Regions from separate parts of the Homo sapiens genome. Here regions 1 and 3 are each linked to region 2. Evidence: fine-mapped expression QTL. A gene starts in region 2. Each other region holds a variant in brackets. All regions are shown on one strand. Distances are between the middles of the regions. Region 1 overlaps ODF2L (outer dense fiber of sperm tails 2 like). Region 2 holds the start of LINC02795 (long intergenic non-protein coding RNA 2795). Region 3 overlaps CLCA2 (chloride channel accessory 2).

What was found. PIP is the estimated chance that this variant, and not a neighbour inherited with it, causes the effect.
Region 1: its variant is the best candidate, but not a certain one, in a credible set for the expression of LINC02795 in adrenal gland (GTEx, PIP 0.53).
Region 3: its variant is the best candidate, but not a certain one, in a credible set for the expression of LINC02795 in whole blood (TOPMed, PIP 0.77).

What each region holds. Positions count from the first base shown.
Region 1 is chr1:86,344,529-86,348,666 of GRCh38, forward strand. ODF2L (outer dense fiber of sperm tails 2 like) reads right to left here. Exons shown (of 17, transcript NM_001366781.1): 17 at 2,309-4,138. Among named protein-coding and RNA genes, the nearest start is that of MIR7856, 11 kb to the right of the region's middle. The variant GA/G (reference allele first, on the strand shown) is at 2,299.
Region 2 is chr1:86,317,032-86,321,326 of GRCh38, forward strand. LINC02795 (long intergenic non-protein coding RNA 2795) reads right to left here and starts at 2,570. Exons shown (of 4, transcript NR_187380.1): 1 at 1,625-2,570; 2 at 1,301-1,364. It overlaps LOC105378825 (a long non-coding RNA gene), which reads right to left. Exons shown (of 3, transcript XR_007066205.1): 3 at 3,273-4,000.
Region 3 is chr1:86,455,915-86,460,209 of GRCh38, forward strand. It overlaps CLCA2 (chloride channel accessory 2), which reads left to right. Exons shown (of 14, transcript NM_006536.7): 14 at 1-639. Among named protein-coding and RNA genes, the nearest start is that of CLCA1, 11 kb to the right of the region's middle. The variant GA/G (reference allele first, on the strand shown) is at 2,603.

The DNA of each region.
Region 1 (4,138 bases), 27 kb after region 2:
TATCATTCTTATGCCTTTGTGTCCTCATAGCTTAGCTCCCACTTATGAATGAGAACATATAATATTTGGTTTTCCATTTCTGAGTTACTTCACTTAGAATAATGGTCTCCCACTCCATCCAGGTTGCTGTGAATGCTGTGATTTTTTTTCCTTTTTGTGGCTGAGTAGTATTCCACAATGTATATGTACCACATTTTCTTTATGCACTCATTGGTTGACAGGCATTTAGGCTGGTTCCATATTTTTGCAATTGCAAATTGTGCTGCTATAAACATGCAAATGCAAGTTATTTTTCACATAATGACTTCTTTTCCTTTGGGTAGATACCCAGTAGTGGGATTGCTGGATCAAATGGTAGTTTTACTTTTAGTTCTTTAAGGACTCTCCATCCTATTTTCCATAGTGGTTGTACTAGTTTACATTCCCACCAGCAGTGTAGAAGTGTTCCCTTTTCACTACATCCATGCCAACATCTATTCTTTTCTGATTTTTTTATTAAGACCATTCTTGCAGTAGTAAGGTGGTATCTCACTGTGGTTTTAATTTGCATTTCCCTGACCATTAGTGATATTGAGCATTTTTTTCATGTTTGTCGGTCACTTGCATATCTTCTTTTGAGAATTTGTCTATTCATATCCTTTGTCCACTTTTTAATGGGATTATTTTTATCTTGCTGATTTGAGTTTGAGTCAGTTCCACAGGCTTAACAGGAAGCATGACTGGGATGCCTCAGGAAACTTACAATTATGGTGGAAGGCAAAGGGGAAGGAAGCACATCCTACCATGGCAGAGCAGGAGGAGGACTGAGAGAGTCGGGGGGAACTGCCACACAGTTTTAAATCATTGAATCTCATGAGAACCCAGAAAACAGCAAGGGGGAAATGCACCCCCATGATCCAATCACCTCCCACCAGGCCCCTCCCCCAACACGTGGGGATTACAATTTGAGATGAGATTTGGTTGGGGACACAGAACCAAACCGTATCACGTGTGTGGGTTTCTATTCCTTTCTCCATGTGCATACCAACATATGTGAACCTATATACAGAGAGGTTTTTAATTACAAAAATAAACATGACTTTGTGACTTTTTTTCACCTAAATATAACGAATAAACTGCAAGCCAGCAGATAGATCAAATTCATTCTTTAAATTGCTGTATATTTTTCCAGCTACAGACCCTGCTGTGACTCACTTTCTAAGAGGACTTCATTTGCCGTTTGCTGCAACAGACCTGCTGACCTCAGAAAACCTTGAAGGGGCTCTCTAGTGAAGGGCTTTCCAATCTTTGTAGTTGGGAAAGAACTGCTGCTTGAGACTGAAAAGGTCTGGGAGCAAAACAGCTCCTCATAGAAAGTTATCAGATGGTAAGAGGTCTCATAGGCCCATGAGAAATGAAGCCACCGCATCTCTTAACACTTAATTTGCTACTGCCCAAGAGATGTGCACAACAGGGTGCTGGCAGATGCTGAGGAAACCATAGCTTGAGTAGGCCAGGAAAAGTTAAATTCATTTATGGGGCATGGGAAGAAAGATGACCAGTGCAACAGAAATAAGAGAGATGTCTACTGAAGCAGAACCAATGGAAGAGACAGAAGATAATTTTAATGAAAAATATCATGGAATTATAGAACTAAAAATAGAAAAGATTTTCAGAAATTAAAAACTACCACGATTTCTTAATTAAAAGTTCAATATCCAACAGAAAAAGAGAATGACTGACTTTGAAAATAACATTAGTGGTCAGAAAAATCGCTGGAGGAAATACCTCATAAGAGACCCAGTGCAGATAACCTGAGGGAAAAGACCAAGAAGCATGGAGGTCAGATCCAGGAGCCAACGAAAGAGGAGGAAAGGAACATGAGAAGTAATAATAACATAGATAATGGAAGAAAACATTTACAACTTAGAAAGTATTGAGGGCCTGAATATCAAAGATAAAGGGAAAATCCTGCAGATCTTTTAGTACTGTGGGGAAATGGGCTTTCTGGCTCAAGGGCCTCGCTGACATTGAATTTAGGTCACATACCAGGTAAGCCCTAGGTACACACAATGTGTGTACCTAATGCTTCACATGGAAACAGTATTAAGCAGAGATTGTTAAATTCTAGCATTCAGCAACTTTCCTTTGTCATGTTGTCACTAGGAGCTAAATACCAACCTTAGGAACTTTGTGGTAGTCTTTTCCTTCCACAGTCTATCTAAAGCTGCAGGCACCAATTTTTAAATGCCATAAGCACAAATTACTTTGGTAACAATAAAAAATTAAAAATATGAGAAAGGAGGTATTCATGGGTAA[GA/G]CAAATGCATTACTGTTATAAGAAACTACTATCTTTATTTATGAAATGGATACAGAGGTAGTATGGTGAGAGTTAAGAGCAGAGCAGAGACTCTGGATGTCTGCCACTTACTAGCTGTGCGACCTTGGGCAAGTTACCTAACCTTTCCATGTCTTAGTTTCCTGAAAATTAAATGAGTTAATATATTATCACAATTATTAACTCTGGCACATAGCAAGTGCTTAATCAATCATAGCAGCGCTGCTGCTGCGCTGCTGCTACAGTGGGAAAACGGCTCTGTACACAGAACTTTAATGTTGCAGACTTGAATTTAAATGCCAACTTTAAACAAGTTTCATACCACAGCCATGGTAATTAATCCTTTTTGCTTACATTTTTCATATCTAAAACAGGAGTACGAATACCTGCCTCTTTCAACATCTGTCCATCTATCCACAAACATCAACTGAGTGCCCAGATATTTATATGACTAAGATACATTTCGGCCCTTAAGGAGCTTACAGTTTAGTGAGTAAAACTCAAGAGCTTTGCTTTCCTTTCATGTGGGCATTTAAGGCTCCCTTTGCATTAGGAGGTAAAGAAAGGGCTGCAAGGGTCAAGCATGTTTTTAGTATGATGAGTACTAAGATTTTTTTTAAAATGACACTAATCTTGTTAGCAATTGTTGGGTAAAAAATGTGGCCAGTTCTGACACTCTGTATTTTGCTATTTTAAGAAAAATACTACGAACCAACTGGATCACTAGAAAGTAAGCATCTGTGAATGATATGACAGTCTTAAAAGTGAGGGGATCAGAGGGGACCAGGCCCCCATCTCTGATCAGAAAAAAAGCATAAAACATCTTAAAGAGATATTTCTGTTCATAGGCTGGAACTGTGTAGTTCACAACCTGCCTTTTTTAGTGATCTTTTAAGACCTGAGTGTTCCTCTGAATTAACAGCTCTCAAGTCATTGTCCAAGAGGAGTCACTATTACTTGATCCTTTGTAAACCACGTCATCCCCTTTTAGAGTATCCTGCCTTGGCACACACAGTGGGAGATTATAGCAAACAAGTTCTTTTTCAACTTGGACAACTTTATCCCAATACTAAAGACCTTATTTTAAAGCTTCTTGATGTTAAGAGTGCTTATTTTGATCATCCCCATGAGTTGGCCATGGAAAGGGTGGGATAAGCTGTTCCCCTTTAATCTTTTATTTAACTAAGGGGCTCTAGAATGTCTAAAATAATAATAATATCAGATAATCATTAGTATAAAACGAATAAAAGAGAGTACAAATTGAAGACAGCCTGAATATCTATTCTTTATAAAGAAATAATGCATGACCACGTTTTCATCTGTCATTAGCAGTTGGTACTTAATAGCGATGATTTAAAATTGTATACTTAAAACCTAACAGAAATTATAATGGCAACTCAGCATATACTTGAAACAATATTAAGTGTAGTATATTGAGACATTTAGTAGCTTTAGAAAGTATGTAATTACACCATTATTAAAAATTAAAATTCAGAATATTTTACATTTATATATCATAATATAAAACAATTATATATATTATTTAAAATCATATTGACCAAGACTTACTACAAATTCACTTGAATGGTGGCTACAAACATCACAAAGAATGAATCTGACTTCCATGTCTATGTGTGAGAAAAATATTCTAACAACCAATTTAATTTTAAAAGAAATTAAACCAAAGATAAATAAGAATTATCCAGCAAACAGGAATAGTAACAACTATCCTATTTTAAAGTTTCAGTTAGATAAATTATGTTTCAAAAATCTTTACATAAAAACCTCTAATACTACCACTCATAAATCATAAAATGTAAC
Region 2 (4,295 bases):
TAGCAAATACTGACAATATGTGTTATTGTCTGGCCTTATTAAGGCATATCTAAATCTTTTAGTGAGTCCATGTAAAAGTCATTTTCTTACCACTCAGATGGTTTCTCTAAATTGCTGTGCTCCTGCTATGATTTGACCTTTGGCTGAGATGCTTTTTCAAATGCTTTTAGCTAAGCCCTGCATACATCTAGACACTCAAGCTTCAGGATAGTACAGATTTCAGCCCCATTACTCCTTTTCCAAGCTACAGCAGAAAAACCAAAACAAATATTGCAGATTTGTCCAGTTCTCTTAAGTATCAGCTAGGGAAGCAGGAAAAGTCCTCTCTATTATGTGGTGATTCTCCATATTAGAATCACCTAGGAATCTTTTAAGATATGCTGATACCCTAATATTTTTAAGGAGCTCTCTCTAGATGATTCTAGCGTGCAGCTAATGTGGAAAACTAGGCATTTGGAGAAAGAAGAGAAAAAGTTAGAAATAGCATGTAAAGCCTTGAGCATGTTATTGAACCTCTTTAAACTCACTTCTCTCATTGTTACTTACATGAATTAATCCAAATAAGTTTAGTTTGGTGTTTGGCTTACAGTAAACACTTAATAAATATTAGTCATTATTAATATTGTTTTATCAAAGTTCATATTTTTTCATCATTTTATTTGTGAGTAAATGGGGTTTCTCCAGGAAGCAAAAATATGTAAGACCACAGATCTTGAAAGCAGAGCTTGAAGAGAGCAAAATTTGGCATTCAAATCCCAGCTTGACCACTTAGTAGTTAATCTGACATTGAGCAGGCAAGCATTTGATCTGAGTCTCGGTTTTCTCATCTATTAAATGGGAGTGATACTTACCTCTCAGGTTGTGAAGACTAAAAGATACTATGTATGCTAAAGGATAATTTTCAAAAAAGTAAAATTATGACCCTTCTACAGTTATAAAAGAAACATATGTCAAAGATTTTATTTCAACTCTTTAATTACTGAGGGAACCACTAATATAGTAAGATCTGTTCAAATGAGAATTTGACTTATAGAGCTTTATAATCAACCAGTCAAAATTTGTTTGCTTTGGTATGAATAAGAATTTGCTGCATTGTCAGCAGTTTTCAACAATTTAACAGCTACCTCTGCAGAGCTGCAAAATAACCTAGTCAATAGAAAGTCAAGGTGTGAATTCTTGGAATCAGATAATCCAGGACTCCACTATAATGCCCAGCACTCCACTGAAAGACACCAGTGATCCTCTTTGCCCATTTCTGAGTCCTGACAAGTATATAAAGCACAAGGCAGAGTGTACTTGCCATGGAGTCAGTGATGATTACATGGTGGCTGCATTCATTATCCTTGAATAACATGATTATTTACCTAGAAAATCCAAACAAATCAACAAAATAAATGTATTATGACAGATAGGACAATTACAATCATTAAAATTTATCATTACTGTGACTCTTGAGTTCATGCTTCACATTCTTCCCTTCACTGTAAACATACCAATAATAACATTTTTAAAAATATATAAAGAAAAGTCATAGGCATATTCAAAAGCAGGATAATAGATCACATGCAGCACGATGCCAGAACTGAAGCCTCAGGCAGTGTAGGCAGCCAAGAGTTGGACTCACGTGGGGTGACAGAGCAAAGCGTTCTTCATAAAGCTGGAAGCAAGGACAGTGTTCCCTTTGCCAGCTCAGTGACTGGATCTCTAATATCCCCAAAGACTCCAAGCCACAGGAGTCCAAGCCACCAACTAAGACCATGCCCTGGTCTAGAGATGGTGGGGGGAGAGTTGGTGAAGGCAACCAAAAAACTGATATCCAAGGAGTCTTGAAGAGGAGGGAGATGAAAATTCCCACACAAGCTGAACCTGCAAACTAAAGCTTCGAAGAAAAGGAGAAAAATTAACCCTAAGAAAGAGCAAATAAACTTATCCAGGGCATTAATAGTTAACAGAATATGATGCAGAATTGTGGAAAAATAATGACATGGAAAACACGGTAAAAGAAGGGAAACGTTTCAAGGAAAGGTAAATGTCTTGAAGACTGATTTGCTCATTCGTGATTAGCTCTCAGCTCCAGTTCCACCCTATGCTTTCCCCCTATTGCAGGGAAGCAGAATCTGCTTACACCAGAGTCTTTTCCAAACCTTCCTTTCAGCTGTCTCTCAAAGAGAATTTGGCATTCTGGGAAGCAATGGGAGGCACTGGAAAAAACTGGAAATGAGGAGGATTTCTTCTCTTCTTGAAGTAGCTCTGATAAACATGGTGGCAGCAGTAACAGCAGCAGGCAAGCCTGAGCCCTGGACATCTGCTCAGGCAACATGGTTCAGACAGTAGATGCAGTAGCAGGTACCCCAACAACCTCAGTGGGACAGTTTCCCTAGGCTGCAACAGGGACAGCGGCTGATGACTTTTGGATCCTGGATACCTGTAGCATCAGCAAGAGCGCTAATTCCCTGCTTCCTGTAAAGCAGCTGCAGTGGGGTTCCAGCGGCATCAGGGGCACAATGACTGTGGGCTCTGGGTAGCAGCATCTTCCTTTCTGCTTCTCCTGCACTAGTATAGTGGTAACTTCTGGAAGTTACTATCTCTAGGTAACAGATCTTCCCTCTTTCGCTCCTCCAGCCCTTCCAACATGTTTGCAGCCAGTTTTCTGTCCTACATTCTGTCTGTTGATTCTGATTGCCTGAGGAGACACTGACAGAGTTGGCTATGCCTGCAGAATACGGATGACAGATGTGTTGAAAAATCAGAGAAGCTATGATAGTTAAAGAACTATAATGCCAGCAGGAATTGATCTGTCGTGCTAAAAACAAACAAACAAAAACATTACAAATGTATCCGCGTGTCTATAGACAGGAGGTTAGAAATGACTTGCTCTGGTTATGATTACAGATAATTTTTATTAGGCGAGAACTTCACAAATGCTAGAACTAGCCTATGTAAGCTCAAATCCCAGTTCTCCCAGCTTCTATCAGTATAGCATTGGGCAGATTTCTTAATCACTCTCTGACTCTTTTTCTCTAAATGCAAAGTGGTTGAAATAATATCTCAAAAAGTTATGGAAAAAAAGTGAGTCAATAAATTTTTTAAAATGGAGAAGAGAGACTGGTTCATGGTACTCTACAAGTGGTTTTCTAAAATGTTTTTCTTTATCCAGATCCTTACTGGTTAAAAAAAAAAAGAATGAGCATAATAATTTTTTAACCAATAAATAAATAAAATGTTTGTATTTATTTTCCAATTTTAATAAAGGATATATATATTACTACTGACCAGAAAATGTCATATATAAAAAGATAAACATGGCATTCCATAAAAAATGAACATAAATTATCTTAAAATTATTGCCAAATTTGTGATTTCTACAGTATTACAGGGTTGCAAAGCTTCTTGGAAGATAAACTAGACTCCTCTAACTTTTAGCAAGTCTATTCCTCTACTTTCTTCATATCAATAGCCAACATCCTGTCATGAAAATATTCATCTGGATTCACCTAAGTCCTTCTGAATATACGTTTTCCTCCTCTCACGCAGTTTTCAAATTGTATTTAGAACATTCAATCAACATCTTACATGTAACAATATTCTCTGTATTTAAACATTATGCTGTGCCTTTTCCTATTTATTGCCAGGTGAAATAGATTTTTCTATGGTTATTCACAAAAATCTCAAAGTAAAAATGAAATGAACTGATAAACTCATGAATTAATGTGTTATGTTAGGAAGAATACTTGTTTCAAATTGTAGGGGCTGCCATGGAGGGTGGAGTGGCTTTCCTGATTGATAAATGTACAGCTTGGCCCCTTCTTTGGGATCCTCCTTTCTGCAGAGAGTTCCAGTTTTCGTGTTCTCTTTCCTGAGGGACAGTGGAGGCCTAGGGGTAAGCTGGCTTCATTCAGGAAGATCACATTAACAGGCTTGTTCAAGCGGATTTTTCAGCAGTAAACCCTTTATTTTGATTTCTGTGTTTTATTCCTGCATCTTTTACTCTCAGTTTGTCCTAAAATCAGGTGGGGAAGAAAAGATAAATAGTGAAAAGATGAATAGTGATCCCCTCAAACTACAGCATGTTAACTCAGGCATATTACTTTAATTTCCACTTAAACCAGGGGCTCTTACCTGGGGTCCGCAAATGCATGCATAAACATGGATGGGAAAAGTAAATCACATCTTTATTTTTTCTAAATTTCTTTTTTTTTTTTTTTTGAGACGGAGTCTCACTCTGTTCCCAAGGCTGGAGTGCAGTGGTTCAATCTTGGCTCACTGCAACCTCTGCCTCCCGGGTTCAAGCGATT
Region 3 (4,295 bases), 140 kb after region 2:
CTTTTCTCCTTATCTGTGCAGAACAGGTTGCTTGTTTACAACTGAAGATCATGCTATATTTTATATATGAAGCCCCTAATGCAAAGCTCTTTACCTCTTGCTATTTTGTTATATATATTACAGATGAAATCTCACTGCTAATGCTCAGAGATCTTTTTTCACTGTAAGAGGTAACCTTTAACAATATGGGTATTACCTTTGTCTCTTCATACCGGTTTTATGACAAAGGTCTATTGAATTTATTTGTTTGTAAGTTTCTACTCCCATCAAAGCAGCTTTCTAAGTTATTGCCTTGGTTATTATGGATGATAGTTATAGCCCTTATAATGCCTTAACTAAGGAAGAAAAGATGTTATTCTGAGTTTGTTTTAATACATATATGAACATATAGTTTTATTCAATTAAACCAAAGAAGAGGTCAGCAGGGAGATACTAACCTTTGGAAATGATTAGCTGGCTCTGTTTTTTGGTTAAATAAGAGTCTTTAATCCTTTCTCCATCAAGAGTTACTTACCAAGGGCAGGGGAAGGGGGATATAGAGGTCACAAGGAAATAAAAATCATCTTTCATCTTTAATTTTACTCCTTCCTCTTATTTTTTTAAAAGATTATCGAACAATAAAATCATTTGCCTTTTTAATTAAAGAGTTTAAAACTTTATTGAAGAATATATATAATAATGTAGACTAGATCTAAATTTTATAACCAGGACCAATTAAGAATAAAAATTAGATTATGTTTTGGGGTGGTGGAGAGGGAAATGTGGGGAATTGGGACAGGAAGAAAGAGATAGCATGAAGCCCTAAGTGAGAGACTCAGACCAGTGCTGGGGAGAAAAACAACCAGCAAATCTCTCTACCCAGGCCACCTCCTTGCAGTTTATACTGATCCAGTGTCTGGCCTGTTACTTTCTAAGTCTCACAGTGCCTACATTTTCACAGATGAAAGCTTCAAGACACTTGCAGCTCAATTCCTAGCTGGCAGTCAATCCTTCCTCCCTCTATTGCTATTATACTTGCTAGCATGGAATTTGCTTCTCTCCAGTTTTAAACTGGGCTAGTGAAACACAGAGACGGATTGTAGTGGGTTTCAAGTTCTCGAATATTTTCCTCATTTTACAGACAGGAAAATGGAGGGTTGGGTGAGTAATTCAAAGTTTTATACTGGTTAATGGCAAAGCTATATTAGAGGTAGAGCCAGGTTCTCAGACTACTCCTTTTCTCCTATTTAAGGTGTGGGAGATGCCAGGGTTTCTACCTAGAGATATTTAACTGTTTCATGATAAGTTAGCAGGACAGCAGATCTAGCTTTAAAGAAACCTGGTGGGTTTTGTTGTTGATGTTGTTGTTGTTTGTCTTCCATTTTGTGGGTACAGGAATGGAACAAATGGACTTAAGTCCAGAAATTAGTGAGTATAAGAGGCAAAATTAAGGGGTTCTAATGATATTAAAGTAACAAACAAATATAACAGTATAGAAAGAGTGATCTCATGAAGTGCGTAGGGTAAACAGTGTTCAGTGGTTGTAAGGAGTGAAAATATTAAACAAAAAGAAAGATGTAGTAAATGTAGGAAAACACAGATTTAGAGATTCCAGCAGTCAATAGAACAGAGTCACAGTAAAGACCCTGTTGATTCCAAATACCTGATAAAAAAAATTGAAACAATAGGGCATTTGGCCAAAAAGAATGAAAAACTATGATGTGCTCGCTGGTCACTAGTGGAATACCATGATGTCAATACATGTGACATCATTAACAGTTTGACCCAAGATTGAAAGAGGAGGAAGACTGTGGGTTAGATAGACAGTTATCTGAGAGAGGGAAGAGAAGTCTATGGAATTAAGCAATATGGGCAGATATTATTTTTAAATTTCAGAATAGTCATTGTTATGTAGTGGATAGAAATTTGTTCTGGAAAGTGAAAAGAGCATTCCCCCATTTTTTGCCCTCTTCTTTTAGGAATAGTAGAGGAAGATTAATTGTCTCAATGGAAGAGAGACAAAAGTAGGGGATGGGAGATTTTTAAGAGCTGCTGATATAGCCTATGCACTGAGCAGGTCACTGTTTATGTGGACACTATTGACTTTCCCAAAAGTACGTTTGTACTTGCATGTTAATAGCAAAAAGTCTACCAAAAAAATTTGTGTATGCTTTATCTTTTATTACAATGCAATTATTCTTAGAAGAGTTAACCCCTAGATATATCTTACATTTAAAACTTAATGTGACACTGATGGTGAAGCTGCTCATATCAAACTAATCCTCTTACAAATAACAATTATAATTCTGGAAGAAAATGTAGAACACAATTCTTTAAGCAATGGATCCTGACAAAAGCAAGCAGAAACTGAAGGAGATATGACCCTTAAAAGGGGAGAATAAGTAGAGGTGGGATCCACATTTAACCAAATTTTTCCCCAAAGGATCTCCCTAGTTTGCTCAGAACATCTGGATAGAGCTCAAGCAGAAAGCAGCCATCATCCCAGATTGATAAGTCAGAAGTAAGCAATCTGGGGGTCAGATTAGTTGGAAATTGAGGAAGGGAATCCCAAAAAGAAGCAGCCACAAAGAGGAAAGTCCCCAAACCTGCATCCTCTCAATCT[GA/G]AAAAAACCCAAATTTGATTTAAACTATCAATCCACAGATCTCAGATGTTCAAGTGAGCCTAAAATAGGATCTATACAAAGAAAACACCTAGGCATATCATAGGAATGATGACTGACTACTCATCAGAAACAACTGAGGCCACAAGACAATAAAATAGCATTTTAAAGTGCTAAAAGAAAATCTGTCAACATAGAATGATTTCAAGCAAAAATGTCTTTCAAAATGTAGATAAGTAGAAGCTAATTTTTGCCAGCAAGAAATACCAAAGAAATTTCTTTAGGCTGAAGGAAAATGATGCCTGATGGAAATATAGATCTATAGCATTGAAGGGTTTTTAGAAATTATAGGCTGGGCACGGTGGCTCATGCCTATAATCCTGGCACTTTGGGAGGCCTAGGTGGGTGGATCACCTGAGGTCAGGAGTTCGAGACCAGGCTGGCCAACATGGTGAAAACCTGTTTCTACTAAAAATACAAAAATAGCTGGGCATGGTGGCGGGTGCCTGTAATCCCAGCTACTCAGAAGGCTGAGGTAGAAGAATCACTTGAACCTGGGAGGCGGAGGTTGCAGTGAGCTGAGATAGCACCACTGCACTCTAGCCTGGGAGACAGAGTGAGATTCCATCTGAAAAAAAAAAGAAAGAAAATAAAGAGATTATAAATAGGTACGTAAGTATCTATGCTGTTGGTTTGCTTTACCCAATTCCTTTAAAAAACAATTAACTATAACAGAAATAAAAACAATATATTGTGGTATTAATAACAAGAAGTAAGATATAAGATAATAAGCGCAGAATGAACATAAAGGTGACAAATGGAATTATAATATCAAAGGGTACTCTAATTATACATAAAGTGGTATAATATTAATTCAGAGTAGAGTGGGATAAATTAAGAACACATATTGTAACTCTTTTAGCACCCATTAAAAATAGAGAATTGAGGACAGGTATGGTGGCTCACACCTATAATCCTAGCACTTTGGGAGGCCTAGGTGGGAGGATTGCTTGAGCCCAGGAATTAGAGGCCTGCTAGGGCAACAAAATGCGATCCCATCTCTACAAAAAATCAAAAAAATTAGACAGGTGTTGTGGCACATGCCTGGAGTCCCAACTACATGGGATGCTGAGGCAGGAGAATCACTTGAGCCTAGCAGGTCAAAGCTGCAGTGAGCTATGCTCGTGCTACTGTACTCAGCCAGGATGACCGAGTGAGACCCTGTCTCAAAAATAATACATAAAATAAAAATATCTAAAATAAAAATATGCTAAACATCCTACAATGCACAGGACAGCCCCTGCTAGCAGCGGTTAATCAACATGGGTCTGCGGCAACTCAATTCTTGCCCCCTTGAAGGAAAGAATTTGACCGAGGGGCATAAGGCAGAGTGAGAGACTCAGGCAAGTTTTTGAGCGGGAGTAAGATTTTATTAAAAAGCTTTAGAGTAGGAACAAAAAGAGGGCCAAGGGGGCAACTTGAGAGATACAAGTGCCCTGTTTGACCTTTGACTTAGGGTTTTATACATTGGCATGGTTCCGGGGTTTGCATCTCTCCTCCCTTGATTTCTTTTCTTGGGACAGGCTGTCTGCATTCGCAGTGGCCTGCCAGCACTTGGGAGGGGAGCATGCACAGTATGTTTACTAAAGTTGTGTGCATGTTCATTTTAGGCATTTTTTTCCTTACCAGTCGAGT